2 separate regions of the Homo sapiens genome follow, and region 2 is linked to region 1. The links come from fine-mapping of genetic effects on gene expression. A gene starts in region 1. The other region holds a variant in brackets. All regions are shown on one strand. Distances are between the middles of the regions.

Region 1 (12,001 bases):
GACCCATTTCTGACCAGCTTCTAAGACACTTTCAGTTGTAAGTTTTATTAATACCTAAAACGTGTCTAAAACAGAATTACCTTTCTTCTGTCACCCTAAATTACTTTTTCTCCAGATGTCCCAATCTTTGCCTATCACTAAGCTATTTCATTTAGAAAATGTGTAGTCCATCTAATTCCTCCATTTCAAGATAATTCCCACATCTTCTCAAGTCTTCTTTTATTAACATGTCTTCCTTTCTGATCATCGGTGCTATCACCCTCATTGAGGGCCTTGTTACTCTAAAAGTGGACTTGTGAAATGGTCTAAGTGGGATGTGGCTTCAGAGTCTCACGTGATGAGTTCCTTTTGTGAGCTGCTGACTGTTTTATCTTGTAAACTCCTTTGCAAACAGCACCTTAAAATCTCAATGGCTGCTATTGAAATCTTTCAACAAAAATCTTTGAAACTGTAGATCAATTTCTATAGCCAACAAACTGAGTATGGCAAATAGTTTTAGAGAGAAAGTTCCCTACCAGGTTATAAGGAGAAAGGCCACCTTTCCCCTCCTTCATGGAGTACACTGTTACACAGGTCTACATCCGTGGTTCTCAGTCCAGTAATTTTGCCCCCACGGGACATTTGGCCATGGATGGAGACATTTTGGGTTGTCATAGCTCAGGCAAGCTATTGGCCTCTTATGAGTAGAGGCCAGGGATACTGCTTAGCATCCTACAAAACACAGAAAACCTGGTCTAGCCCTTACAGAGAATGAGTCAAGATAATGTGGGCCTTCTTAGACAAGGTGGCATGAGGAACAACAACAACAAAAACGACAATGTAGGCCCAAGACAGGGCAAGTGTGTGAGGATCCCGAGAGAAAGGAGAAAGACTCTTTGATGGTTGCCAGGGAGAGTGTCTTTATGGTTACTTAGTCTTCCTAGCACCAGAGAGAGATCAACGGAAGACAAAGATATATTTGCATGTGCAAAGTAACTGCCATTTCTGTGTTGAGTAGTAAACATTATAAATTCTTGTGTTTTGGTAAATAAAAGGGCTCTTCTCCAGGACTGTGGGCAACCCTGTCTGGGCAACACCCATGTAGGAACTGGCAGAAGAAATCCAGGCTTGCTTCACTCTGTGATTCTTTCTAGCTTCCTAGATTGGAGAAGCCAAAACTGCTTGGCAGCTATCAGCTCCTCACTGCTTTGAGATCAAGGATAAACTTAACCCTTAGGCAGTTACCATCTGAACCCATTCCACCCTTCTGCAAAACTGTTACATCACCTATAGTGGCATATTATTTCTTAAACAAGCTGAGCATATTCCTACCTCTACACCTTTGCGTGCACATTTCCTTGCCCTGGAATCCGCACCCCTCTGCTGCTTTACCTAAAACTGCTCCTTTGAATGGTCACTTGAAGCCCCATCTCCTATAAGCATATCTGCCCATATTATTTATTTAGCATTAGCAACATGCTATCTTCTACTGTTCTAAAATTCATTTTTAAAACAGATACCCTACCTCCCCAATTAAAAATGTAATTTTTTTTGATGTCAAGAACCCTGTTGTAAACCTACAGATCCCCAAAACTTACCTGTGTACTTTGCGTAAGGCAATGATACCCTAAAACATCCTATCAAAGTTATTGGTAATGTGTTCTGCCTACATTAATAGCTAGTGTTGTCCAGGCACAGTGGCTCATGCCTGCAATCCCAGCACTTTGGGAGGCCAAGGCGGGAGGATCACTTGAGTCCAGGATTTTGAAGCTTCAGTGAGCCATGATCTGTATCACTGCACTCCAGCCTGGGTGACAGAACAAGATCCTGTCTCTAAAAAACTAACTTAATTAATTAATTTTAAAAATAGCTAATGTTTACTGATTATTTATAATGAGTCAGCTGCTCTAAGTACTTAAGAACATTTATTATGAGTCAGCTGTTCCAAGTTCTCAGGTTAAGAGATGTGTCATTCCAAAGAGAAAGGCAAGAGGGTGAGAGAAGGTGAGAGTGAGAAATGAGGGGAGAGAAAGAGAGAGCAAGAGAAGGCCAAAGTTGTCCTTTAATGAGGAACTCATTCTCTCAAAAACAGCATTAATAATTTACGAGGCCAGTTCCCCTATTTAGAGGTGACAGCATGCTGGCAGCCCTCGCTTGCTCTCGGTGCCTCGCCTCCTCGGCCTCGGCGCCCATTCTGGCCACGCTTGAGGAGCCCTTCAGCCCACCGCTGCACCGTGGGAGCCCTTCTCTAGGCTGGCCAAGGCTGGAGCCAGCTCCCTCGGCTTGCGGGGAGGTGTGGAGGGAGAGGCATGGGCGGGAACCAGGGCTGCGTGGCGCTTGTGGGCCAGCTAGAGTTCCGGGTGGGCGTGGGCTTGGCAGGCCCTGCACTCGGAGCGGCCGGCAGGCCCTGCGGCCCCGGGCAGTGAGGGGCTTAGCACCCAGGCCAGCAGCTGTGGAGGGTGCGCCGGGTCCCCCAGCAGTGCTGGCCCACCGGCGCCGCGCTCGATTTCTAGCCAGGCCTTAGCTGCCTCTCCGCGGGGCAGGCCCCGGGACCTGCAGCCCACCATGCCTGAGTCTCCCCGCCACCGCCAGTGGGCTCCTGCACGGCCTGAGCCTCCCCGACGAGCGCCACCCCCTGCTCCACTGCACCCAGTCCCATCAACCGCCCAAGGGCTGAGGAGTGCAGGCACGAGGCGCGAGACTGGCAGGCAGCTCCACCTGCGGCACTGGTGCAAGATCCACTGGGTGAGGCCAGCTGGGCTCCTGAGTCTAGTGGGGACTTGGAGAACCTTTGTGTCTAGCTAAGGGATTGTGAGTGCACCAATCAGCACTCAGTGTCTAGCTCAAGGTTTGTGAACACACCAATCAGCACCCTGTGTCTAGCTCAGGGTTTGTGGATGCACCAATCGGTACTCTGTATCTAGCTAATCTGGTGGTGACTTGAAGAATCTTTATGTCTAGCTAAGGGATTGTAAATACACCAATCAGCACTCTGTATCAAGCTCAGGGTTTGTGGATGCACCAATCGGTACTCTGTATCTAGCTAATCTGGTGGGGACTTGAAGAATCTTTATGTCTAGCTAAGTGATTGTAAATACACCAATCAGCACTCTGTATCAAGCTCAAGGTTTGTAAATGCACCAATCCGCACTCTGTGTCTAGTTCAGGGTTTGTAAATACACCAATCAGCACTCTGTATCTAGCTAATCTAGTGGGGAGGTGGAGAACTTTTGTGTCTAGCTCAGGGATTGTAAATGCACCAATCAGCACCCTGTCAAAACAGACCAATCCAATCAGCTGTCTGTAAAACAGACCAATCAGGCTGCCGAGCCAGCAGTGGCAATCCAATCGGGTCCCCTTCCACACTGTGGAAGCTTTGTTCTTTAGCTCTTTGCAATAAATCTTGCCGCTGCTCAATCTTTGAGTCCACACTGCCTTTATGAGCTGTAACACTCACCGCGAAGGTCTGCAGCTTCACTCCTGAAGCCAGCGAGGCCACAAGCCCACCGGGAGGAGCGAACAACTCCAGATGTGCCGCCTTAAGAGCTGTAACACTCACCGTGAAGGTCTGCAGCTTCACTCCTGAGCCGGTGACACCACAAACCCACCAGAAGGAAGAAACTCCGAACACATCCGAACATCAGAAGGAACAAACTCCAGACACACCGCCTTTAAGAACTGTAGCACTCACCGCGAGGGTCCGTGGCTTCATTCTTGAAGTCAGTGAGACCAAGAACCCACCAATTCTGGACACACTATGACCCAAACACTTCCCATTAGGCCCCACCACTCAAAACCTCCGCACTGGGGATCAAGCTTCCAACACATGAATTTTGGGGGACACATTCAAACCATTTGTGTTCTCTCTACCTGGATGCCAAATATATGTCCAGAAAAAATACTTCTGGTTTTGTTGAAGAGCAAAAAGTTAAACAACAAGAATTATATGTATTTTGGCAGCTGCTGTCTGGCAGATGTCCAGAGAATTAACTGAACAAGAATTCACGTCAAGGATATTTGTCAAGAATCACCTCTTGGCTGGGTGCAATGGCTCATGCCTGTAATCCCAGCATTTTGGAGGGTGAGGTGGGAGGATCGCTTGAGGCCAGGAGTTCCAGACCAGCCTGGCCAACACAGTGAGACCTCATCTCTACAAAACACTTTAAAAATTAGCCAGGTGCAGTGACACATGCCTGTGGTCCTAGCTCCCGGGGAGCTGAGGTCAGAGAATCACTTGAGCCAGGAGTTCAAGGTTACGGTGAGCTATGATCACGCCACTACACTCCAGCCTGGGCAAGAGAGTGAAAACTTGTCTAAAAAAAAAAAAAATCATCTCTTAAAAGACATCAAGCGGCCTGGTGTGGTGGCTCACGCCTGTAATCCCAGCATTTTGGGAGGCCATGGCGGGTGGATCATGAAGTTAGGAGTTTGAGACCATTTCCATCTTGCTGACCAAGATGGTGAAACCCCATCTGTACTAAAACTACAAAAATTAGCCAGGCAAGGTGGCAGGCGCCTGTAATCCCAGTTACTCGGGAGGCTGAGGCAGGAGAATCGCTCGAATCCGGGTGGCATAGGTTACAGTGAACTGAGATCGCACCACAGCACTCCAACCTGGGCGACAGAGTAAGACTCCGTCTCAAAAAAAAAAAAAAAAAGATATCAAGCTACATTAAAATGCTTTGGAACCACAGGTTAACTACAAGGTCCAATTCTCCACTAATTGGGTTGCTTAGACCAAATGGGCAGGACAGTTCTAATCCATCTGCAGGACTAGGAGAGACCTTCTGAGAAGGCAGGGGTAGGCTGAAGGTCAGCATTGCAATCTGATTGTTATGTGACTTGGGAACACTGGTTATTGCCTCCGAGTTCCTCATTTGCAAGATGAAGCCACTAATATACCTACTTCAGAGGTTTACAGGAAGAGTAAATAGGGTAGTGGGTGTAAAATGCTGTCCCTGGTCTACAATAAGTGAGTAAATGCTAGCTTTCCATTTGCCTCTGGATAGAAACCAAAATTAGCCCTACCTTGCATTTCTCCCCACTCCATGCCACTTGTGTCCACAGCCATCTACCTACACTGTGGCATGAGGAAACTCCAAAGCTCTTGACCTTCAATGGCTCCTAACAATCCAAAAGGATCAACCCCCAATTCCCTAAAGTGGCCTCAGTCCCCTTTTGTTGCAGTTTTCTGACCACTCCTTTCCCCTCCTAAACTCTAACCCAGCTTCCAAAGAGCCTATCACTTCCCCAATGGTCCTAGTCATTTCTATCTTCTGAATCTGCACGCAGACTGTAGCCCCTTAGGATTTGTTCCACACCTACATGACATGGGGTTAGTTGCACATAGTTCTAACCTTTCCTCTAAAAGATAAACTTCTTGGAGGTAGAGTATTTTATTCATTATTACATCTGGCATAGCACACAATGCTTCGTGCATGGCAGTAAGAGCTGATATTTACCGAGAGCTGACTACATTCCGAGCACTATTCTAAGTGCCTTACATGAACATATGAGCTCATTTAATTTTCACAACAATTTTGGAATACGCACAATTATTCTCTCCATTTACAGACCAGGAAACTGAGACCCAAAGCATAACCTGTCCAAGGTTATACCACTAGGAAGTGAGAGGGCCTGGGTTCAGATCCAAGCAGCCTAGCTACAGAACCTACGTTCTTAACCACTATGCTACAGTCGATGTTCAATCAATTTAGCTAATTTATGTAAAAGAGCTTCAAAAACTATAAAGGACTATAAGCCACAATAAACCAAAAGTTCAAACAAAATAGGTTTTTGATATCTCTAAGGACGGGGAGACAGTAGTATATGAAGGTTAAGTTTAGAATCAGACCAGAGTTCGAATACCACCAGCTCTATCCCTTTCTATCTGTGGGCAAGCTATTATTCTTTTTCAGCATCTGCAAGATTAAACTACTTGTTAAGATGGTTGTGAGAATTGAGATGACTCAGGTAGAACGAGAACGTGCCTACCACAGAGTATGCGGTCAATAAATTTTGGCTCTAAAACAGAGTCAAATTGTAAAACCAAAGAAATTTTCTTTGCTAAGTTATTAACCAACAATTATAAACAGTATTAAACAATAATCACTTACTGTTTTTTATTGCACTTCAGGCCTGTAAAACAGTCAAATAACATTAATTATCTCTAATAAGAAAAAGGGTCAGAGTTCTGCCTCTGGGCATAAGACTGAAGCAGCAGTTGGAAAGCCTAACTCATTAAAGCAAATGCAAAGGAAACATTAAAAGCACACGTAAGCAGTGGGAAAATTCCCAGTGAAGTGTACTGACAAATACAAGTGTATCCAAATGTGTATGTTCTGAAAAGCATGCTATATAATAGGTCCAAGGGGTGAAGAGCATAGGATGTTAACACAGGGGCTGTTAACAGTTTGTGTGGGTGCACAGATAAGAATTAAGCACAACAAGAGGCTGGTTTCAGCTTAAGTTCATGGAAGAGGGACCGGCACCGGCTCCGGCTCCCCTGGGCGGCGGTGAGTCTATCCACGGAAGATACCCAGGCTCCAGACATGAGATAAGGGGCAGAGGGAACTCTGTCCCTGGCCGGGAAGCCCGAACAACTCCGAAGTCCCTTACTACCTTTGAGCGGGGCCGCGGAAGGAAGGACAGGGAGACACCTGCTCAGAATGAGACTGGGCCTATATTTTAACTATCTTTTTTGGGGGAGGGGGTGTGAAATGTAATCACTCGGGAAAGGTGCGTTAGGGCATCAGGGAGGTGACATCTGTGCAAAATGCATCCAGAGATCCAGAGATCCAGACTCGGTGGCTCTCAGGACGCAACGGCCTGCAAAGGACATCTTGCGGACGCGACCCTCCGACTCCACTCAAGGTACTTGCTCCGCCAAAGCAGCTTCTAGACAGCCCCGACCCCCTTGCCACCAGCTGCCTCCACCAGAGGCCTGAAGGGGGTCGGGGTCATAGACTGCCCGCGGGTAAAGAGTCTGGGGACCCAGGACGTGGAGCGGGGCTCAGGCCGGCGCCCCGAGGCCCGTTAGAAGGCTCTGCCAGCTGCGATTCCAGGGGCCAAGGTCGCCCTGGGCCCCCAGGACGCCAGCCTCGAACGCACTCACCAGCCTGCTGCCGCGCAGCAACCGCACTGCCAGGCCCTCCATCCTCGCCGCAGGCCTCTCCGCTCTGCGCCTCTGGGTCTCTAGCCAGCCCCTGGGAGTTACCCGAGCAAGGCCCCGCCCACTCAGTACCCGCCCCGCACACACCCCCCCTTAATCCCTGCCCCCTGCTGCCTACGGAACCCCAAGAGAGACAAACAGGCCCCTCCTCGCTTTCGCCCTCCATCCTGCTCACGCGAGACTTGAGCAAGGCAGGGGGGCGGGAAGGGAGTCGGAGACACAACAAAGATGGCGGCGGCGACTGTGACGGTGACGAAGACGGCGGCGGCGGCGACGGCATTTAACAAGGCGGTGTGGTTTACTCCATGCAGTTGTCAGGAGGTAAGTAGCAGGCTGCCGGCTCGGACGGCGGCGACGCGGCAGGACAGGGCGGATAAGAAGGAGCGGCCGGAGACTGGAGCTGGGTTCGTGGCGGGCCGGCTGATCCGGACGGAGACTCAGTTCAGTGGAGGGTCGGGCGTGGTCGGTAGGCGGGCAGGTGATGGCCCGGGACCTCTTTAGCCGGAGGGCAGTGGACTGCGGCGCCTATGGCCGCGAGAACCCCGAGGGAGCGGGGTCTCCTGCTGTCATTGCCTTCGAGCAGGAGCTCGGAGGCTCCGGGGCGGGGACTGTTGCTTGGCTCTGACAGGTGGTTCTGCGGGAGGCGTCCCGAGGTTTGCGTCTTCACGGGGTCCCAGGGGCTGGGAGTCAGCCGGGCGCGGGTCTCCTAGGTGTTTCGAATCCTGGCGAGGATGTCGCTCCGAATCTTGGTGAGGCTGCTGCCCCGACGCCGGTCCCAGGCTGATTGTTGGGAGAAGGACGTTTAAAGCCTTCGTATTTTATCTAATGATCCTGCCCGGATCCGTCTCTACTGCATGGGCACCCTTATTTTAGGAACATGTGAGATTTGAGAAAGACATTGTAGCAAATAACTATTCAGGTTCATTCGGGGTTTAGATCTTTGGATAAACTGTGTGGAGCGCGAGTAGCCAAGCCTAGCATGCTCGATGACTGGATCTGAAGCTAAACAAGTTCTAGCAAACACTAACCACGTGGCCTGCTTAGAGTCCCCTTGATGTGCTGGTCAGAACCCGAAAGACGTGTGACAAGCGGAAGAAGACATAAAGGCGTCTTAAATTGTGTGATCTGAGGAAATTCAGTTTTGAAAGAACAGAATGTATTTAAAACAACTTTTTTTTAAACGTAGGAACTAACAATTTTAAAAATTCAATTTAATTTTGATTTATGTCGTGTTGTCACAACAGCTAAAGGTTATTATTATTGATGAGAGTTCGTTACAGTGAATTGAAATGTCTGGTGTTATTTTCCCCTAGCGGTCCAGGATGTTTCCCAGAAAACCGTAGCTGTTTTGTGTTATGATAGGATAAGAAGGATGGGATTCAGATGTGCCCTTATCGGGTGTGCATGTTTTTTTTGTTTTTGTATTTAAAGCCCTTTCCCATTTCCCTACTTAGGACTATGCGTTGTTTTTATGCAACTACAGCTGTTCAGCAGTACTAAGCTTGACCGTTTTGGAAGTGTGCTGTGACTAAATGAAGTTAATCTTAATTTCTTTAAACTGAAGTTTAACTTAAATTTAGACATTAAAAATCTTGCCAAAAACTAATCCACCAGTGAGAAAACGGTAGTCACACCAGTTATTCTTTGGTGATCCTATGGAGCTTTTGCTGAAGTGAAGCTACTGCTTTGTTCTTTGATTAATCTGTCAGTTCGTTTTCTTTTCAGCTAATGTAATGATAAGATTGGCATAAGTTACTAGCTCATTCAACCTGTAGATGCTAATTAAGTTTTTATCTTAAAGGTTTTGATTTGTGGTGTGCTGTTTGTTTTTTATGCAGACCTCTGTATGGCTTTTCAATTTTAGTTGAAATTCTCTCTCCATGGCCTTTTGGAGTCCCTTGCTGTATCTCCGAAGTAAATTTCAATTACTCTACATTTCATCAATGTTGGAGTGGCAAGAAAAAGGAGGAACAGATTTGGGGTGAAAAGGTTAGATTGTATAATTTCTCTTCTGGATTTCTTTCAACATGGTTTTACTTATGTTTTATTTTTATGTTTTGATTTCTGATTTCTCAGAGCCTCATAATTTCTTTTTTTGCCTTCAAGAGTTTTTGACAGTTCTGAAATCAGGAATTGTGTTCCAATTATTTTGGAAGGCCCATGTTACTCCATAGAAACCAATCCTTATTTGTCAACGTTGTCTGTTTATATGTGTTCTATAGCAGAGTAAATCTCAGTGACCATAATTATTAGGCTATGGAGGGTAAACACATCTATTGAACTGTAATCACTTTATGTGTATAGGCCTGCCTTACCCATAAATTATTATGTAAGTAAATTAGTTGCTAATATTGTATTCTTCCTTATGGTTACCTATGAGAAGTAAGACTTCTCATGAATGCTAGGTGAACGAAACATATCCTGCTGTTCCCTAATCATGTTCTCAAAATTCTCCCACAGTTTATAAAAAAGATAGAAGGAAGAAGGAAGATAGGTTAGAGAGCTTCTTCTCTGGTTGTTTCATAGTTGTGAATGCCTTCTAATTTGCATTTCAGTGCCTGTGTTTTAAATTATTAGCTACTGGTTAAGAGGCTGGGGGGGGTGCACATATATACACACATGTAATTGTGTGTGTGTGCTTGTATATATGCTTGCATTGATCAACAGCTTCCCATTTATGAGACTGAAGAAGAAAGATCAGACGACTTCATACAAAATAAATCCTTTATCAGAAACCAAGGAAGATCGGAAATTAGCCTAAATTACCTACTTGAGGTAGAGGTTTTCCTGTTCTTTGGGATATCAAAGCTTAATTCTCTTATACCTCTTTTCCCCCTACCGGCTTGCATAGCCTCTGGTTGTTTTCTGAAAGCATTGATTTTGAGCCTTGAATAATAAATTGGGGGACGCTACTGGCATGACAATACTTTAGGTATACCCTAGCCAGTTTCTATATAGATATCCACCTACACCCCATGGAATTCCATACTATATTCAACTTAACTTTAATCAGAATAATCACAGGAAGGATTTGGGAATTTTGCTATATCATAAGGAACAATCATCATAAAGTATGGGGATATTGTTCTCTTTGGTTGATATGATTAGATATCTTAGTTCAGGTTGCTGTAACGAATTACCATAGACTGAGTGGTTTAAACAAACATTTATTTCTCACAGTTCTGGAGGCTGGGAAATCTTAATATGAAGGTGCCAGCAGATCAGGTATCTGGGGAGGGCTTGCTTTCTGATTGTATCCTCTCATGGCAAAGAGCAGAGAGGAAGCAAGATCTCTGGATCTCTTCACAAGGCACTAATCCCATTTAGAGGACTTCACCTTTACAACCCAATTATTTCTCAAAGGCCCCACTCCAGATGCCATCAAATTGGGGGTTAGAATTTCAACATATCAGCTTTTGGGGACATAAACATTCAGTCCATGACGATACCAGCAGAAAGAGTACATCTGAGTTGTAATAACACCACCCACATCTGTAATAATACTGGAGAATACTTAAGTATATTTCTTGTTCAGATGACATGATATCATACATTGAAATTTTGTGTTAAGTAAGTAATTTTTTGGCTAACAAACACCAAGGTATTGAGTTCATGTCCAGTATAGGAAAGATACCACTAAAAAAATTATAGCTTGTGGATTTTCTAAAGTATATTTTGTTATGTTTGCAAAGGTTTTAAAATTTATCAATGCCTTAGAGGCATCTCTGGGTATCAGTTAATTTGTGGAGTTCCTAGATTAAACTTTGAGACTTGAGACTGATGATAATTACATCAAAGACAGGAAAATGGCTCAGATAGAAAACCTTTATTTTCTTTCTATAAGAGGAAGTCTTTTGTAGTTCCAGAAATTTTTTTTTTCTTTTAAAAATTAGAGATGAGGTCTCGCTCTGTTGCCTGGACTGGTCTTGAACTCCTGAGCTCAGGCAGTCCTCCCACCTTAGCCTCTGAAAGTGCTGGGATTGTAGTCATAAGCCACCATGTCCAGCCCAGTTTCAGAATTATTACTATTTTTCAATTTATTATGCTTAGAAATATTGACTTGAGATGTAGAAAGCTGAGTTTTGAGCCGAAGACTCTACTTCACTTTAGGCACCTTTCATTCATATATGTCTCTACTATAGACTAGGGCTTTGCAAGCACCTGTCATACCCTGTGTATATGGATATATGGGATAGAGGCCATACAGGTCAAGTGGGCACAAAAATGCTTAGGGACGAAATGACACCTAATTTTTAAATCATGACAGGATGTTTAAGGTTATAAAGCATACTAATATATTTAAAATTCTAATTTAAGAAGAGTTTTTCTTCATGTTTGCAATGTTACAGTGTTCTCTATTTCATAGACATGCTTTTTTTTTTTTTAAGTTTATCATGCATTGTGGTTGAAAAGCAGCACACAATTTATGGCAAGGAACACAGTGAAGTTTATAATGTGACAATGTGATAATAGCCAAGACTGTCAAAATATGCCAGCCATCCTCTGTAATTAGGCTCATTTGTGTTCTTAAACTTGAGATGCATGTATAAAAATATCATTTTCTTCTGCTTGCTTTCTGGCAGTCTTGTGTGTTTTTACTGCACTGTCACGTTGTACTGTAGCAACGTTATGCTTTCTAATCAAGATTTGGTAAGGATTATCTTGCTTCCAGAAGCCTGTCAAAGTATATTCAGACATTTTCCAGGAGAAATGTATAGTTTTCATGTGAACTGATTGGCAAGAAGTGATGCTAAGTTACAATGTAAATACTGGGATTTCTTTCTTAATTATAGCTTTTATAATTAGAACGCAGACAATCTGTAGGGCTATACAGCTTTTACAAATTAAAAA
Region 2 (17,687 bases), 55 kb before region 1:
CCATTTAACCGATGAATGAACTGAGCTTTGAATTCTAGAAAGAACTTGTCCAAGGTGACATCCCACAGCGTGGTCCAGCCCAGCTCTGTTTGAGCCCTGGCCTTCCTGGCCCACCATGGGGCCTTTCTGTGCAATCTACAATAAAAAACCATACCCGGTAGATTTATAAAGAGCACCTTGCAACCAATTGTTTGGGGCACCCAGCAGTGGTCTAATGTCCTTTTGCACAGACCCCAGTCCTGTCCAGGGTGGGAGCCGCAGGTGGCTCAGTTTGCATTGTCAACAAACACCAGCCACCTTGCAGGATAGAGGCCACAGCTCCAGGAGCCAGCCAATGTCAGAAGGTGCCCTCTGGCAGACAGGGCATCCTAGGGACCCTGCCTTCTCTCAGCCTTATCTTCCTTTCCTTCCCCTGGAGATTCTGTCCTCCAACCCAGACTGCAGCTGTGGCCAGAAGCAAATACAGGGAAGAAGCCAGGGTCACTTTCTCCCACTGAGTGAACAGGGGAAGCTGCTGAAACTGAGCCAGAGAATGCAGCTAAGGGCAGGGGGAGCTGGGTCAGAGCCTGTGAGAGGCCAGAGGGGAGTTGATGGAGTCGTGGCTGGTTTTCCAGGACTGGGAGAAGGTGAGGACTGGGTTAAAAAAGGCTTCTAGGGAAGGCAGCCCTGGAGCTGGAGCTCAGAAGACCTCTCAGACCTGCCAGGAAGACCCCTGATTTACTGATGAGGCCAGGTAAGACAAGCAAACAGCCTGAGTCCCCCACAAACAGTGCATGGAACCAGCAGAGGCCAGGGCTCCTTCCTCAACCCCTTGCTCTTCGTGGAGTCCACCTGCTCCCTGGGCCTCAGACACAGATGTGGCCTGCATGGGCCCACGGAGGACGTTCCAGAGTCCCTCGATGTGGCCGTCACAGGGGAGTGCATCTACTCAGGAGTGTTTGGGGCATTACCCTTCATGGATTCAAAGGTTAGGTGCCGATTCCACCTTGCCACTGGTAATGAGGAGCACAGAAGACAGATGGAGGCAGCTCCCATGCACAGTATGCTAATTCTCTGACCAGTGGACCAGGAAATGGCCGGTCATTTGTGAGACCATCGAGACTCAGAGATGCCGCCTTAAAGCTCTCTTGTCTGTAATGCCGTGTCCCCATTGAGGCTCCTTAGAGCGATCTCAGCAGCCAATTTCCAGAGTTCCAGGCAGCATGAGGAATGGGAAGAGTGATGGATGTGTGGGGCTTTCCGGGGAGTACTTTGAGGAGCCCTCCATCTGTGCTCAGGCTGCCCTGGTTCTCTGCATGCACTGGGTACCCTTGGGCTGGTCCCAGCACCTCCACTTCTGCTTCTGAGAAATTGAGATTGCTGTGCTCCGGGGCCTCCTCCAGGGCTGTGGCCGGGACCAGGTGGCAGGTACACAGCTTCGAGGGCCAGAAGACTCCTGAGAGAACAGAATTGTGGATGCAAATGGGCATTTCTGGACTCTCTGCTGACTCTCAGCCCCATCACTCTCTCTATGACTCATGGGGCAGTGGGCGAGGGTGGGATTTGCGGAGGTTGGTCTTCATATTCTGTGATGTGCTCCTGGCCCCTTTCCTTCTGATCACTAGTCATAGAGTCCTGTGCTATGGGAAAGCCGCCTGAACTGGGAAAGCCCTCCCTACCAGGATAACACAGGCCTGGAGAGCCTGACTTCGTGTGGAATCTGCAGGTGAAGTGTGTGTGTGTGTGTGTGTGCGCGCGCGCGTGTGTGTGTCCTGCTCACACTGATCAAAGTATGTAAGGGATGGAGCTCTGCAGCATTGAGGCCTTAATGTAAAAGGGTGTGCACTGTCTCCTGCGGCTCCCAAGATATCACCTACGGTACATGAAGTCCTTGCTGAACTAGCAAATTGGTGCAGGAAAAATTCCACTTTAAACAAATCTCTTTAAAATATGGACCCTCTCGTAATAAATGGTGGAAACAAAAGAGGTTTGATGTAGAGTTCGTCTTGAAACTTACAATTTGCCTTAAAATTTATGAAAAAAGATGTATCTCATTTTTAGACTAAGGCTATAATTGCACCTATAATCTTAGACTGAACAAAGAATGAATCGAATGTTAATTGGGAGGGGGGCATACGTTTTTCAGTACAAAATTGTATGATGGCTCACTCTGTGGGCCATTCTTTGTGGTTGATTTTCACAGCATGGTCTTAGAGTGTCATTTTTGCAAAATTATCCAAAGGCTTCATGCATTTTCACAAGGGCATATCTTCACCCACAGCACTCAAATCATTCTCTTTTGAGTGTCGACTGTGTCATCCCTCTTGCCCATTTTTTTCTTTAACTCAAGAATGGCCAGATCCTCATTTGTCAATGGCTTTTCATAGAATTCTAATGGCTCTCCAGCGTCATTTTCACAACTCCAAGAAATCCTGCAACTGTGGCACAATTTGCAGTTTCGTTTTGCCATCAATTTATATGGGCTTTGCAAAGTATTGTTGGAACATCTGACAATTAGTGAGACAGATAGTAAAGATGATCAGGGTTGAGCAAAGACAGCTAGAGTTCAGCAGAAGGGGACATTCCGGTGGGTGCTACTTTCATAGGTACTCGGTTCTTTAGTGAGCATAGCTTTATGATGGCTTTCACTGCCCTAAGGAAATGATCTGGATGCAGGTAATGAATCCTAAGATAATGAGGAGCCAGGAGTGTGGTGTTTCTCTTTTTATGCATCCAGAGCCTCTTTCCTATGAGAAAGAGCAGTGCAGGTAGCCTGCTTCATTTGGCGTTTGCTCTGCTGATTCTCTCTGGACCATATCTGGCAGGAGCCTCTGAAAAGAATCAACTCACGTCTAATGCAGTAGAGCTTTACCAAAACAGCTCCAGACCTAACTGCGACCTCCTTAAATTGAGTTCTGGTAGCCTTCCCATTATTGGATAGACATAAGGTTCAATCCAAGATGACACTTCCCTTTTGCCATTTCCCCAGGCCTCAAGGAGACAGCGGGCAGTACTTTGGGAAATTCATTTCATCAAGCACCAGTGGTCTTCCAGGTCTTAAATAATAAGAGTAACAAGTAAAATTGATTGAATACTTCCTTCCTTGAATACTTCCTAGGTACTGGGTATTGTTGGAAACATTTTACAAGTATGCTTTTATTTAATTCTCACTGTCCTTTTGGTGTTAATTTCATTTTAAAGTTGAGGAAATATAATCAAATTAACATGGGAACAGAAAAGCAAACACCACATGTTTTCACTTACAAGTGGGAGCTAAATATTGGGTAAACATGGAGGTAGAGATGATAACAATAGGCCGTGTGCAGTGGCTCACACCTATAATCCCAGCACTTTGGGAGGCTGAGGTGGGTGGATCATGAGGTCAGGAGTTCAAGACCAGCCTGGTCAATATGGTGAAACCCCATCTCTACTGAAAATTAACCAGGTGTGGTGGCTTACACCTGTAGTCCCAGCTACTCGGGAGGCTGAGGCAGAAGAATTGCTTGAAACTGGAAGGCGGAGGTTGCAGTGAGCCAAGATTGTATCACCACACTCCAGCCTGGGTGACAGAGGAAGACTCCATCTCAAAAAAAGAAAAAAAAAAAGATGATAATAGTAGAAACTGAGGACTATTAGAGGGGAATGGGGGCAATGGGGCAAGGGTTGAAAAGCTAACTCTTGGATACTCTGCTCACTTCCTGTGTGATGGGATCAGTTGTACCCCAAACCTCAGCATCACACGACATACCCATGTGACAAACCTGCATATGTACTCCATGAATCTAAAAAAAAGTTGAGATACATATAAATAAATACAAACAATAAAGGAAACACCAAAAATAAATAAATAAAGTCAAGGAAATAAAGACATAGAAAGATGATTGTTTTCCAGGTCACACAGGAGGTAAATTATGAACTGAGATTTGAACCCAGGCTGTCTGACTCTAGACCTCATCCTCATAACTAATATTGTTTTGGGGACTAAGCTGGTTTTTTCCTTCTGGGTTTGAATAGTGCTGGGGGTAGAATGGGGACATTGTGGCAGTTGCACATTCAGGATCATCTCGCTCCCCTCTCACACTGGGTAAGTGAAAGAAATGAAGACCCAGGACATCATGCCCAACTTGCCTGATAACTTGCCCAATGCAGTCTCCCAAATGAATAGCAAAGCGCAATTAAAACCTAGGGTCTCCTAAGACAAGACTTTAACAAGCATACTTGCTGTTTAATCAGAATCCATTTTTAAAATTCTATTCCTAAGTCAAGAAACTGTCTTTTAGGAAAGGCCACCCCAGAAAAGCTGTTGCCACTGTCTCAACAGGCACAGAGGTATTTTCTCAGAGATGCCTCATTTCTTGAAGCTGATAAAATAACTGGGTTGAACAGGCTCAATGCAGACTTTCCCCTACCATGAGCTCTTTTATAGCCACTAAAAAGTCACTTTTTGGGGGGCTTATTATCCCTCAAGATCTTGTGCTGTCCATTTGCATATGAAAGAGGAAGTTCATAAAAGCCCTTTCTTATTTTCTAACACGGGTTCAAATCAGAGGCCATTATCATCCTATAGAAAGACCCAAATGGCATATGGATCATTCTGAAGAAGGGGGCGAGCGCCTTTTAAGAGAATTGTTTTAGTTTTTGCAGGAAATTAATCAGAGGGACGGGCTTTGTGGAGCGGGGAGCAAATCTAATCTGTCCTTTGTTCGAATTTGCCTTGCTCCAATTCCTAGCAATTGTAGACAACATGCTCTTTTGTTTGGGAGACACTTGTTACATGCATAATTAGAGACTGCAGTAGCTGTGTTTAAAGAAAAACTGTTTTCCAATGTAATGTGTGATCTTGATAATAGTATTTTCATCAAAGGTAGCAATTACATTCATTAAGCTGGGACTGGCGTGGCGGCAAGGAAATTAAGTGGAAAGTGAATAAAAAGCTCCCCTCCCCCCTTTTATCTCCTTCTCTTTATAAGTTGAAATGCACCATGGTGAGCTGTAACTGGGAAATACATAGTGAATATAAAAAAATAAAGTCCTCCTTAACCTTTCTGAATAATGACCCTGCAGATATCCTAGGGATGGCAACTATAGATGCACTTTTCAAATTAAAGGGCTTTATTCTACCTTAATTTCCTATGCAAGTTTTAAATGAGCTCAACATATGATTCAGGTCTTTAAAGGCTGCAGGGCTCTTTAGGATTAATTCACTGTTCTTTTCACACATAAATTAATAGTTTTGTGTTCTCAAAAAAAAAAAAACCACAACAAGGCATAAATCAACCAGTTTAGGAGAGAAACAAGGACAGTTGCCTATTTTTAATTACCCCTTTAACTATTCATTTAGGTTTCCTTGTGCTTTAATTTTGAGGATATTATAAATGAAGTTCACACATTAAAGTGGAAAAATAGCCCAGGAAAAGAGTACCCACAGATTCCTAACTGTCACTGTGCTGCTGTGAGAAACTTATTCTGGAAAGACAAACCTATGTGAATATATATGTATACGTAGGCATGTGTGTATGTGTGTGTGTATGCGTGTGTGTGTACGTGTGTGTATGTGTATGTATGTGTATGTGTGTGTATGTGTGTGTATGTGTGTGTGTGTGTATGTGTGTGTGTATGTGTGTGTATGTATGTGTATGTGTGTGTATGTGTGTGTGTATGTGTGTATCTCCTCCAGGCAGATGCTCTATGCTTATTCCCCCGCATTAAAAGTCCTGCTTTAAAATGTCCTTGTAATTCCTCAAAGGGCTTGATGATTCCAATTTTATTCCACAGAGCACAGTGAGAGCCAGACATTCCTGGGCAAAATTAGGTGGAGACACGCCACCTCCTCTCAGCACCCTAGCTTCACCATTGACCTGAAATGCTTTCCGAGAAAATGAAACCAGTTCACAAAAATCAATTGGGAACCCTTATTTTGTGTGTGTGATTGGACACACACAGCTCTGCAGCAGGAATCATTATCTCTAGATTGATTGACCCAAATGTCATGCAGATCATCTTGGAGTGGAAGCCAAAGTGCTTGGACGGTTTCGCATTTTCTGCTGGCTGCACAGCTAGACGCGGCAGTGGCCTTGATGGCAAACCTCTAACCAAGTGGGTCAGGGTATTTTACCCTTGGCTAAAGGAGTTGCTGTAATTTGAGAAAAAGTGGGACTTCAGAAGTTTTACAACTTTACTTTCTGATCTGCTCATTAGCAGTTGCTTTGACTTTATTATGAGGCAGGAATGTTGAATGAGGAGCCAGGAGAGCCAGCCTGTGGCCCCAGCTGGTAATTTATGGAACGACTCAGTAGTCTGCTGAGGCTCATACACACTGTGTAACTTATACCTTACAGCAGCCTTTCAAAGTGGGCATTAGTGTCATGATCATGTCCCATTCACCCTTAAGAAAACAAAACCTTACAGAGGTCAAATAACCACAATCTTGGTCAGAATGTTTTTGTCCCCCTCCTCCCAAATCCCTATGTTGAAACCTAATTCCCAATGTGGTGGTAGTAAGAGGTGGAGCCTCAGTGAGGAATCCACCCTCATCAATGGGACTGGTGTCTTTAGAAAAGAAGTCTGAGGGAGCTTGTGGGCCCCTTTGCCATGGGAGGAAGCAGTGAAAAAGTAGCATCTATGAAGCGGAGTGAGCCCCCACCAGATAGATTCCTATCTCCCTGCACCTTGGACTTCCCAGCCTCCAGAACTGTGAGCAATACATTTCTATTGCTTGTAAGTTGCCCAGTATAAGGTATTTTGTCATGGCAGCCATGAGACACCCACTGCAGGTTGTACACTTAAGAGGTGGTGGCGCAGACAGCCAAACTCCAGCAGTCTGATGTCAATGCCTAAGCTCTTAGTCATCTGCTGTGGGAACTTGGGAGCAAGGGCCTTTGCCTCTCTGGGCTCAGATGCCTTCTACACAAAATAAGAGGGTAGCAAGCAAATCTTAAGAATAACAGGCGGGGACTGTCCAAGGATACTAAGACTAAGGCCGCCTGATCCATAAGCAGCTCTGAACTCTAGCTCTAGTTCTGTGAAAGAGTAAAATTCACACCCTACATCCTTTTACACCCTCAATCAGTGTGGCACCAACTCTGAGCCCTCAACCCAATAATTCCATGGAATACCTAACTCTGTGAGGGCTCTTTCCCCCAGGAGTTCTATCTGGGTTCTGGGGCCTTGCCCAGGGCCATGGTGTAAAGGAGCCTCTTGAGCCTCCATCACCTCCTATGCTCCTTACCTCCTTGAGAGAGAGGTCCCTTCTCCTGGCCCAGATGCTTTCTTCAGGCGAGCTTCTCTGCTTTCTTTGGGATGTGCCTGAGGTCCAACATCTTTCGCGAGGCTGGAGGGCTCTGCCCAGGACCCAGCTTCCTGGTGTCCCCCATGCCATTCCCTCTTGCCCTCTGATGCACTTCCTTGGGGTGCTAGTCTAGGCTACTTATGGGACCTGATCATCTCTCTCTCTCTTTCCCCAACCTAGGGAAATTTCTCTTTAATTTGGGGAAAATTCTTCTCTCCTCAGGCCTTATTCTTCACATGGGACTTAATTTCCTCCTTTCCTTTCAAACCTTGTCCTTCTCTATGGATTTAGACTTTTAGACAAAAGTCAGGAGGTGCTGCCACCAACCTCAATGGAGGCAAGAATCGTTGGAGCCCGCTTGAATAGGGAGAAGAGAAAAGGGAAAAAAAAGTAGTAGCTCCCCAAATTAAGCTTGCCATACTCCTTCAAAGCCCAAAGTTCTTAGAGACCATACAGCTTGCTTGGTCAGGAGCTCTGGGCACCACCTACTACTTTGAGGGAGAAACTGCTGCATCTTCAAGAGCAGTACAGATGGACAGAACTTTCAGGTAAAACAAAAATGCTAGATGTCTGTGCTGCCCAACATGGTCGCCACTGGCCACATGTGACTAATGAGCACTTGAAACATGGCTAGTATAACCAAGGAAAGGATTGTTCATTTTTAAAAATTTTAACTCATTTAAATTTAGATAGGTATTTGAAATCATAAAAATATAGATAATTTCTCAAATTGTTTTATAAAGAAATACAATACAAAACCAACATCTGATTAAAAGCATAAAGAAGAAGAATAGATGACTCTCATTATGAATATATATGCAATAATCCTCCGAATAAAATAGCAAAAGACCAAAAAATAACTTAAATAGACACACATGGCTGGCTGGTGGCCATTGTATTGAACAGCACATTTCTAGAGAAATGATGGAAGAGGAGTATAATCCAGCTTACATTTGAAAGAATGTCTCAGGCTGTTAGATAGAAAGTGGATCGAACAGTGGGAATAGTGGAAGCTGGAAGCCAGTTGAGAGGCTTATTGTGCTGTTCTGAGTGAGAAGTCATATCTTAGATCAGACTATGGTGTTAGTGGAGAATAAAGACTGGACAGATTTAAAAATTACTTTGGAGGTGGAACCAGTGGTGGCAGCCCACTGGTGACTGGGACCCAGGTGCCACACTCCACTCTGAAACCACATTTGGAGTTAAACCGACTCACCCTCCTTACGAATTGTTTTGGACCACTCATTAATTTTCATGGATGCCCTTGATGGAGGACATGTCTTCTTCCAGTGTGGACACCGTTTCAAGCCACGTGAGGTACCTGAGACAAGGATGGCACCCCCTCTATCCAAGTGGTTTATCAAACTGCAAATCCACTAATATGAGCTGGCAAATACCAAAGGTTGATTTTCCAAATGATGTTTTAATGTCCCCAAGCAAATCTTAGCTGCCCCCACTCGAATAAAGACAATGAGTAAACGAAAAGAGAAATCATTATTATGCAGCTACTCTTTAAAGAAAAAGCACTAACCAAACAGGGCTTCCTATCTGGCCATCCGTCTGACAGATATGTTTTCTCAGCACCTACTCTCAGCCTTTTTGGAGGCTGCTCCAGAAAGGGGCTGGGGAAAGAGAAGGTTCTTTCTATTTTACCCCAAATTAGGTAATTCCACCAAAGCTCTTCAGGGTTTGGCTTCTCTTCCCTCCTTCTGTCTTTTTGTGTTCCAATGGTCAGTTCCAGAAGTTCCATGAGTTGGCTTGTCTTTCCAACAGTTTCACATGGTGCCTGAGCAACATTTTGCAATATTAGTAATTCCCATTACTCCT[A/G]CATTATATTAACTCCATAGGTCTAGTTGTAACATGCATGGCACGTGATTGTAATTCTCTACATTAGCTGATGGACATTGAATGTAGAATTGTGAATAGTCTTATTTTTTACAAAAAATATTTAGTAACATTTAATTAAAATTTCAACTTGCCCATTGGTTAAGGGAAAGTTTGTTTCAGTCTCAAAATGCTCTTTATTACAAAATACACTTAAAATGCACTGAGCAACAATCAATAAACATATCCTTAGCCTTTGTCTACTTGGAAAAATCAATAGGGTTGGTACAATGGAGTATTAATGCGTAAAGGAACTGTATGTACATTTTACAGCGATGGGTTTCTGTTATAGACAGAATGTAAAATAAGGTAAGGCTCGAAGAGCTGTCCACTCAGCCAGATGTTCTCCCTTCAGACGTCCTGACCCTCCAAAGGCACCAAAACTTACATCCCTACTATGACTTCATCATTAGTTTGCATATCCAAAAGGAAAAAAAATCAATTTCTAAGAGAAATGGTTAGATTTCAAAACACCGCACCTAAGGTGATTTATCTTATCAGCAGTTTCTTCATTAACTCTTGAACTAATAAAGTAAAATCTCATTAAAGCAAGCCCCATGGAGGCTCCTATTTTGGGGTGGAGAACTGTGAACACATTGCCCTAAATTGCTTTTGGTTCCACCGAACTCGGAGAACAGTTGGTGCCTGGCTTCTCTGCCTCACACTGGGAGAGTGAATGGGGATCCGCAAGGACCTCTGACCTCAGGAGGATGGAGGGAAGGGGCTCGCCTGCTCCCCTTCTGCTTCTTCACTAAGCAGGTGGGTCTCTAGGGAGCTTGGGGTTTACCTCGTTGGTCCTGCTGGACTGGGGTGCTGGGGAGAAGTTGGAAAGGAACGTGGACTTTGGGGATGGAATCATTTTGAGCAACTACTCAAGTCTTAGTGTGCGATGAAAATCCCTTGGCAGGTTACTAAACATGCAGATTCCTAGGCCCCAGCCCCAAAGATAAGACTCATAGGTCAGGAAATGTGCCTTTCTACAGACATCTCAAGTGATCTGGGGGCAGAAAGCCCAGGAGATGACCAGTCCTTCCTGAGTACTTCATCTGACCTTTATACTACCAGACTTACGTAAGACTTCCTGATCTCTGTCTCCTACTCTCATCCTTCACCTGCATTTTAGACATAAATTTCCAAAGCCAGCCAGGTGCGGTGGCTCACGCCTGTAATCCCAGCACTTTGGGAGGCTGAGGCGGATGGATCATGAGGTCAGGAGTTCGAGACCAGCCTGACCAACATGGTGAAACTCCATCTCTACTAAAAATACAAAAATTAGCCAGGCGTGGTGGTGGGCACCTGTAATCCCAGCTACTCAGGAGGCTGAGGCAGGAGAATTGCTTGAACCTGGGAGGTGGGGGTTGCAGTGAGTCGAGATCGCACCACTGCACTCCAGCCTGGGCGACAGAGTGAGACTCCATCTCAAAAGTAAATAAATAAATAAATATAAATTTCCAAAGCCTGCTAGATAGATCTAAAAATAAACACTATAGCCAATGACTGGAACACTCTGGGAATAGTATTCCACAGTGTGCACTTTGAGGTCTCTTGGAGTTATTCTAAAAGCACAGTGAGGTTTAGAACCAATTGTATAGAGAATGAAGAGGCACAATAGCAGAGTCTTGATAAAAAAATTTCCATTTAAGGCCAAAGAAGCCAACGAAGAGTCAGTGAAAAAGAGGAGGTGCTTTGTCAAAGGAGCAGAGCCTGTAGGAAGATGAGGGGTGTCTGAAACTATATAAATTGGGACAAATATAATAGGCCACCAATTAAAGGTAAAAAGATGGCTTTTGAGAACATTGTTTTGGTTCTAAAGAGAAAGAGAAAAGTTATATGAACGTGGTCTCTCTCTTTCTCATTGTCTCATTGTCATACTCACCCTTCTTGTGATGGTGTGAGATGGTAAAATGTGTATGGGATAGGATGAAGTTGTGTGAATGGCGTAGGCACTGTGATGTGCCTACTAGTGATTCAGCCACTATCGACCTTCTGACAACGTCTCAGAAGATGGAGCCTCTGCTTTGTGTGATCCTAGATCACCAAGCATGACAATGAAGATGGCGGGATGTCAAGAGCAGACAGTGTTGATGACCAAGAAGGGGGTAGAGCAGACAACATGGATACGCTGGACAAAGGGATGATTCACGTTCTTATTGGGACGGAGCAGAATTGTGCAAGATTTCATCATGCTACTCAGAACGACGTGCAATTTAAAACTTGTATGTTGTTTGTTTCTGGAGTTTTGTTTAATATTTTCAGATCACAGTTGATGCAGGTAACTGAAACTGCGGGTAAGGGAAGACAATCATGTTTGTAGGTTGTAGCAGGGAGCCCATAGGGCTAGAAAGTCTACAAAGAAAATCAAGAGAGAATAATGGCTCAAGTTCCTAGGGGAAGTCTTCTCTCTTTCTCTTCTTTCGGTATGACATCAAGACAGACTGACCAACCTTTTCAGTCAAAATTTGATTTAGAGGCAATCATTTAATCAGGGGTTGGAAAACTTTTTCCTAAAGGTGCTAGAGAGTAAACATTTTAGGCTTTGTGGGAAAGTGGCAAAATTGAGGATACTGTACATAACTATATAACATTTAAAACATAAAAACACATTCTTAGCTTGTAGGCCATAACGAAAATAGGCAGTGGCTTGGATTTGGCCCATGGGCCATACTTTGTCCATCCAATTTAAACAAAGGACCTGTGTCCTTTGACTTGAGTAGAAGTTTTGAATTTTTCCTTTTTCCTTAATGCAAATGCTTCATGTTCAAGGAAATATTACATTTGAATACTCTGGGTCAAATCATAGAAAATCAAATCACAACTAAAGACAAGATCCCAATCCCAAGCCAGTGCAAATGGCCCAATTTATACCTGAAAGCAAAAAGCCCTCTCTGTGAAGTTCTGCTTGGCAAAGCAAGCCATGCATTGCTTTGCTTAGGACAAGCATTTAAACCTGAACAGTGCTATTTACCTAGGGAGGTCAAACCTTCATAGGTTTCAGATCTCTTTTCTGTGCTCTCTATGTCAGAGTCTACTCTCCCGTGAGGCTGAATAGAGCTGCCGATTTCACTGTGGCTATTTGAGAAAAGTAGAAAAATCAGTTAAAGGGAGAATGATGCACAAAAGTAAAAGATATCAGTAGCCTAGTAGGTTGTTTTAATTTTATATTTCCTATTACACAAGTAATACAAGAATATATTCCTAATATAAAAATTCAAATAGTATAGATGATGCTAATGACCTCCAGTGCCAGCACAGGCCCCCAGAGTTAAATGCAGTTATTGGTGTGGCAGTACACTTTCCACTTTTTTCTGTATTTTATTTTATTATATTTTAAGAGATGAGGTCTCACTCTCTTGCTCAGGCTAGAGTGTAGTGGCATGATCATAGCTCACTGCAGCCTTGAACTCCTTGGCTCAAGTGATCCTCCCGCCTTAGCCTCTGGAGTAGCTAGGACTACAGGTGTGCACCACTGTGCCTGGCTAATTTCCAAGTTTTTTTTCTAAGAATTTATACACCTTTGTATTTACAGAAATATATGTAGCTTTGTATTGTTCTGCACAAATACTGCGTGACTTATTATCTCCTTAAACAATATGACTTGATGATTTCATCTCCATACACGGATCTTCCTTATTTTTTTTAAACGGCTTTTGTGTGCGTTTTCGATGATTTACCTATTTATTCTCCTACTCAGCCATTTCTAACTTTTCACTACTACAAACCATGCTGCCCTGGATGTCCCTGACATGCCTTCTTGCACCCCCTCCCAGAAGCACTGAAGATTCAAGAGACCTGGGCTTGTCACATCATTGTCAATATTTGTTTTTTGTTTGTTTGTTTGTTTGTTTTTGAGATGGAGTCTTGCTCTTTCACTCAGGCTGGAGTGCAGTGCTGTGATCTCAACTCACTGCAACCTTTGCCTCCCAGGGTCAAGCAATCCTCCTGCGTCAGCCTCCTGAGTAGCTTGGATTACAGGCACGAGCCACCACGCCTGGCTAATTTTTGTATTTTACTTAGTAGAGGCAGGGTTTCGCCACCCAGGCTGGTCTCGAACTCATGATCTCAAAAGATCCACCCGCATTGGCCTCCCAAAGTGCTTGGATTACAGGCGTAAGCCACCATGCTCGGCCAACAATTTGTATTTTATATTTTTATTTATTAATTAATCCAGGTTATTTAAAGTCTAGGGTTAGTTTTTTGTTTGTTTTTGAGATGGAGTCTCGTTCGGTCGCCCAGGCTGGAATGCAGTGGTGCAATCTTGGCTCACTGCAACCTCCGCCTCCAGGTTCTCCTGCCTTAGCCTCCCGAGTAGCTAGCGGGATTACAGGGGCACGCCACCACGCCCAGCTAATTTTTGTATTTTTAGTAGGGACGGGGTTTCACCATGTTGGTCAGACTGGTCTCGAACTCCTGACCTCAGGCGATCCGCCCACCTCAGCCTCCCAAAGTGCTGGGATTACAGGCATGAGCCACCATGCCCGGCGTGGTTAGCTTTTTTATATCCTATCTTTTTTGTTTATATATTTACTTATCATTGTGTACAGTGAGTGCCGCCTGTAAAATTTATCTTTTTGGAATTTGTAGAAATTTTGAGACAAAATTCTAATGATCATTCATTTGCATTTGAAAAGAAACAAAAAAGTTCTATCAAACCTGTTAATTACGCCACCCAAATCCTCTACATCTGTTCTTACCTTCCACTTGACTTGGTGATTTCTAAGTCAGCAACTATGATTATGGCTTTGTCAATTTTTTTCATTGTATTTCTATTCGCTTTGCTCTATGTAGTTCCCAGTTATGTTGTTAGGGACATAAAGTTTGTGACTGCTGGACTTTTTTGGTGAACTCTTCCTTTTTATGACATATCCTTTAAAATTATTTTTGCCTTTAATTCCGTTTTGTTAGATATCAACATTGCTATTCATGCTTTCCTTTTTGTAGCATTTGTATGGCCTTTTTCCATCTCTTTATTTCAACTTTATTGTGCTGTTTTGTTTTAGGTGTTTCTAACTTTATGTAGCTGGGATTTAAATTTTTCGTTTGCACCATCTGAACATCTGAGTTTAACCCATTTGCAACTACAAATAATACTATGTTTGCCTATCTTCCCGTCTTATTTTCTACTTACCTTGATTTCTTTTAAAAAAAATAAGGTTTTTTCCTTATATTGTGAGCTATCTGTATAAATAATTGCGTAGCCACCACTCAGATTTCTATCATGATTTTTTGTCATTCTCCCCACCCTAGGGTAACTTTGAGTCTTTACTTTTTTTTTTTTCCTTTCTTTTTCTTTTTTTCTTGAGACAGGATCTCACTCTGTCTCCCAGGCTGGAATGCAATTACACCTAAATGTAACCTCGACTTCCCAGACTCAGGCGATCCTCTCACCTCAGCCTCCGAGTAGCAGCGGCTACAGGTATGTGCTACCATGCCTGGCTAATTTTTGTGTTTTTGTGTAGAAAAGGGGTCTTGCCACATTGCCCAGGCTGGTCTCAAATTTCCTGGGCTCAAGAAATTACTTATTTTTATCTTTTTAAGATCAAGAATCAAACATGGCACATAGCAAATCCCAGGCAAAACTCTAGAGTGAGATTATTTGGTATTTCCTTAGTTTTCTTTTCAGTGCTTTTCTCATCCTTCTAACTGCATCTTCCCATTGCTTTACCTACTCTGCCAGGTCTTCTCTCCAAACACACGTTTCCACCACACCCGTTCGTCTCGAAGGTCCCATTCTCAGCTAGTTTCTCTGCCTCAAAGTATCTGAAACTCATTCATGAAGAATTATTAATGAATAAAGGACTAGTTGGTGGTGGTATTTTACTGGAAGGCTCCTGAAGATAAACAAGACTTAGACCCAAAAGAATAAATCTAGGAGGGCCTTCATCAGCAAGACTGCTGGAGTTTGAGTTCCATTTCTGCCATCTATGAATAAGCATCTTATCTAACACCTCTATGCCTCAGTGTCCTTGCCTATGAAATGAGATAACAAAGAGCACCTCCCTCATAGGGCTGTTGTGAGTTAATATGTGTCAAGAGTCTAGAATCATGGCTAGCACATGGTAGGAGCTCAAGAGATGTCAGCGCTTACTGTTATCATTCTAATGGATGTAAAGAAATATTTCTTTATAGGGGTGACCTTGGTAGCTTTCTACTCAATCTTTCTGTGATGAATAGAAAAGACACCTGAATGGGCGCACATTTAAACAAGGAGCTGTTCTTATTCATGTTTGCATGGTGGCTCAGCGTCCACAGCACTTTGGACATAGCGACCACTCACTACATGTTGCTGAATGACAAAGGAAAAAAAAAAGGGACTAATACCTAGATTTCTAAAATGATGTAGAGGATAATGGGGAGAAGATAAGTTGAAATTTCCTATAGCCTTAGGCTACAGTGTACCACTGAGTAAAAAGTGCAATAATATACATTTTCTAAAAGTAACACTATAAAGCACAGGCATACATATCAGCCAGATAATATCTGTACAGCAAGGATACGCTCAAAAGAGGTGAACTCTCTACTGAAGAGCTGCTTATTTTGCCATTTAAAAAAAAGGGTCCTCTGGCAACATTTTCTTTAGTATCATGAATTTAAACTCAGTCTACATTATAAGACCTCTTCTCTGAAAACAAACAAAATTGGCTTATGTGAGAGGCAAGCTATTGGTTTGGTAAACAAAGATGTATATATCTTACAGAAAGATTACATTATTTTCTTATTTCATCTGTATGTATAACAAACAATTTTGCTTTATAAGAGTACCAAAAATCTCCAGTTAATTTAGTCCTTTATTTTTTTCATTCTCCATAGAATATTGGTTTTGTAACATCGAATACAATCCAATATATAACATTAAAACAATCCGATACATACCATTCTGCTTTATGAAAGATCAGCAAAAATACATAAACAAGGATATAACTAGTACATTTATAAAATACATCATAACAATGAAACCAAAGGATCCCACACAATAATCTTCACATTTGACATGCTGGTTACAGCTGAGGAGAGCCAGTGTCTTTGGCAAGTGATTCATATACATAAGCGATGACACTGACTAATCCTAACACTTCTGAAATGTTCATTCTTTACCAGTTAAACCTAAAATAAATCAGCAAGAGTACTGAAATATAACAAGAATGAAATCCAAAATTTGTCGAAAGGGGCAATGTTTAATACTAGGAAGAACACTGAATTTGGGGACTAATTCTTGTCCCCAAGTACATTTGGATTCTTGTCTTCGTTCCTGGATGATCTTAGGCAAGTAATCTGTGCTATGAATCCTTCACTTTTAAAATGAGAGAGTTGGTTGGCTGGTTCTCTAAGGTCTTTCTAGATTTTAACTTTCCATGATTTTAAAATCTTTGACACAGGCTTATTTTTGTGTTGTAAAATGAAATCTCTAACAATACTAACTTGGCAGTTGGGTGGAATCCAGTGCCACCCACACACATCTGCTCAAATAGTTCTTTATCTTCTGAGCCCCAAGACAGCCCAGTCCTCAAATTAACAATGATGGCAGGCTTCAGGAGGCTGATGGCTAGTTCTCCGCCAGACACAAATGCAAGATAGATAGTTTTAAAGCTCCTGAAGTCATGGTTATCAGAAGAAAAGCTATAAAGGAAGAACTACAGGGAAAACCTACAACACTCTCTTTGGAAAAATGACAAAATAACACATTTACTGATGCACTAACGGAAGAAGGTAGGTGCATATATTAACTATAACACATAATTAATTTTAACTGTTATTGGTGAATATGCACAAAATATACATACAAATTAGAACTTGATCAATAAATATAAATTCAAGGTCTAGATGCAAATGGGAAGCTCTCTGATGCTGGTAATTTGAACAAGAAGTTTATTGTACTTTCACATGTTTCTAATTCTATGGGAAGAAGTTGGGATTCCTTTTACTAATGTTGGCTTCTGCTCCATTATCTGTAAAGTCCACCTCTTTCACATAATCGCAGAAATTAAAGATGTCCAAGGCCCCTGTAGGGCATTTCATCCATGTCATACTCTTATCAGATGACTGTCTTTTTGTTCTGAAAGAGTGAATGAGTGGGTTTTCATCATCTCTCCATTTGAAAGTCAAGTAAGCTTTATCTCTTCGGATTCAAGGTCTAAATTTGTCCTTGTTTCTTCCTAATATTTTAATGTAATTCCTATGTCAATTGTATTTACACAATTTTTAATATTTAACTCTGATTTGCATTATAGAAATTAGTCCACTTCAATAAACATGAATGTGCAAAACAAAATTACTCTGGAAAAGTCAGGTTTTTTAAATAAACATTATCCTTTTATTAAATTACTAAAATGTTTCTCATATAACAGTAATGATTATTCTAAGCAACTGCATGAGCCTTGGAAGATTCTTCATCTCTAACACATGTTCCTCTTTCAGAAAATATCAAAACTCTCATTTCTCTGTTGTCCACCTTCCTCCTGAGGGGACTCAGGCCACACAGGGGGTCTCTTCTGACTGAGAATCCCTAATACTGAAGAAGTGGCATCACCAGTGATATGGT

Evidence for each region.
Region 2: its variant is fine-mapped to the expression of ACADSB in whole blood (TOPMed, PIP 0.95).

Annotation. Positions count from the first base shown.
Region 1 is chr10:123,004,164-123,016,164 of GRCh38, reverse strand. ACADSB (acyl-CoA dehydrogenase short/branched chain) reads right to left here and starts at 7,159. Exons shown (of 11, transcript NM_001609.4): 1 at 7,094-7,159. The coding sequence starts at 7,135. It overlaps IKZF5 (IKAROS family zinc finger 5), which reads left to right and starts at 7,370. Exons shown (of 5, transcript NM_001372123.1): 1 at 7,370-7,471; 2 at 8,989-9,139. RefSeq lists enhancers at 7,254-7,583, 7,864-8,093.
Region 2 is chr10:123,056,522-123,074,208 of GRCh38, reverse strand. ACADSB (acyl-CoA dehydrogenase short/branched chain) reads right to left here. Exons shown (of 11, transcript NM_001609.4): 11 at 15,919-17,687. Among named protein-coding and RNA genes, the nearest start is that of ACADSB, 56 kb to the right of the region's middle. RefSeq lists an enhancer at 3,991-6,271. The variant A/G (reference allele first, on the strand shown) is at 9,095.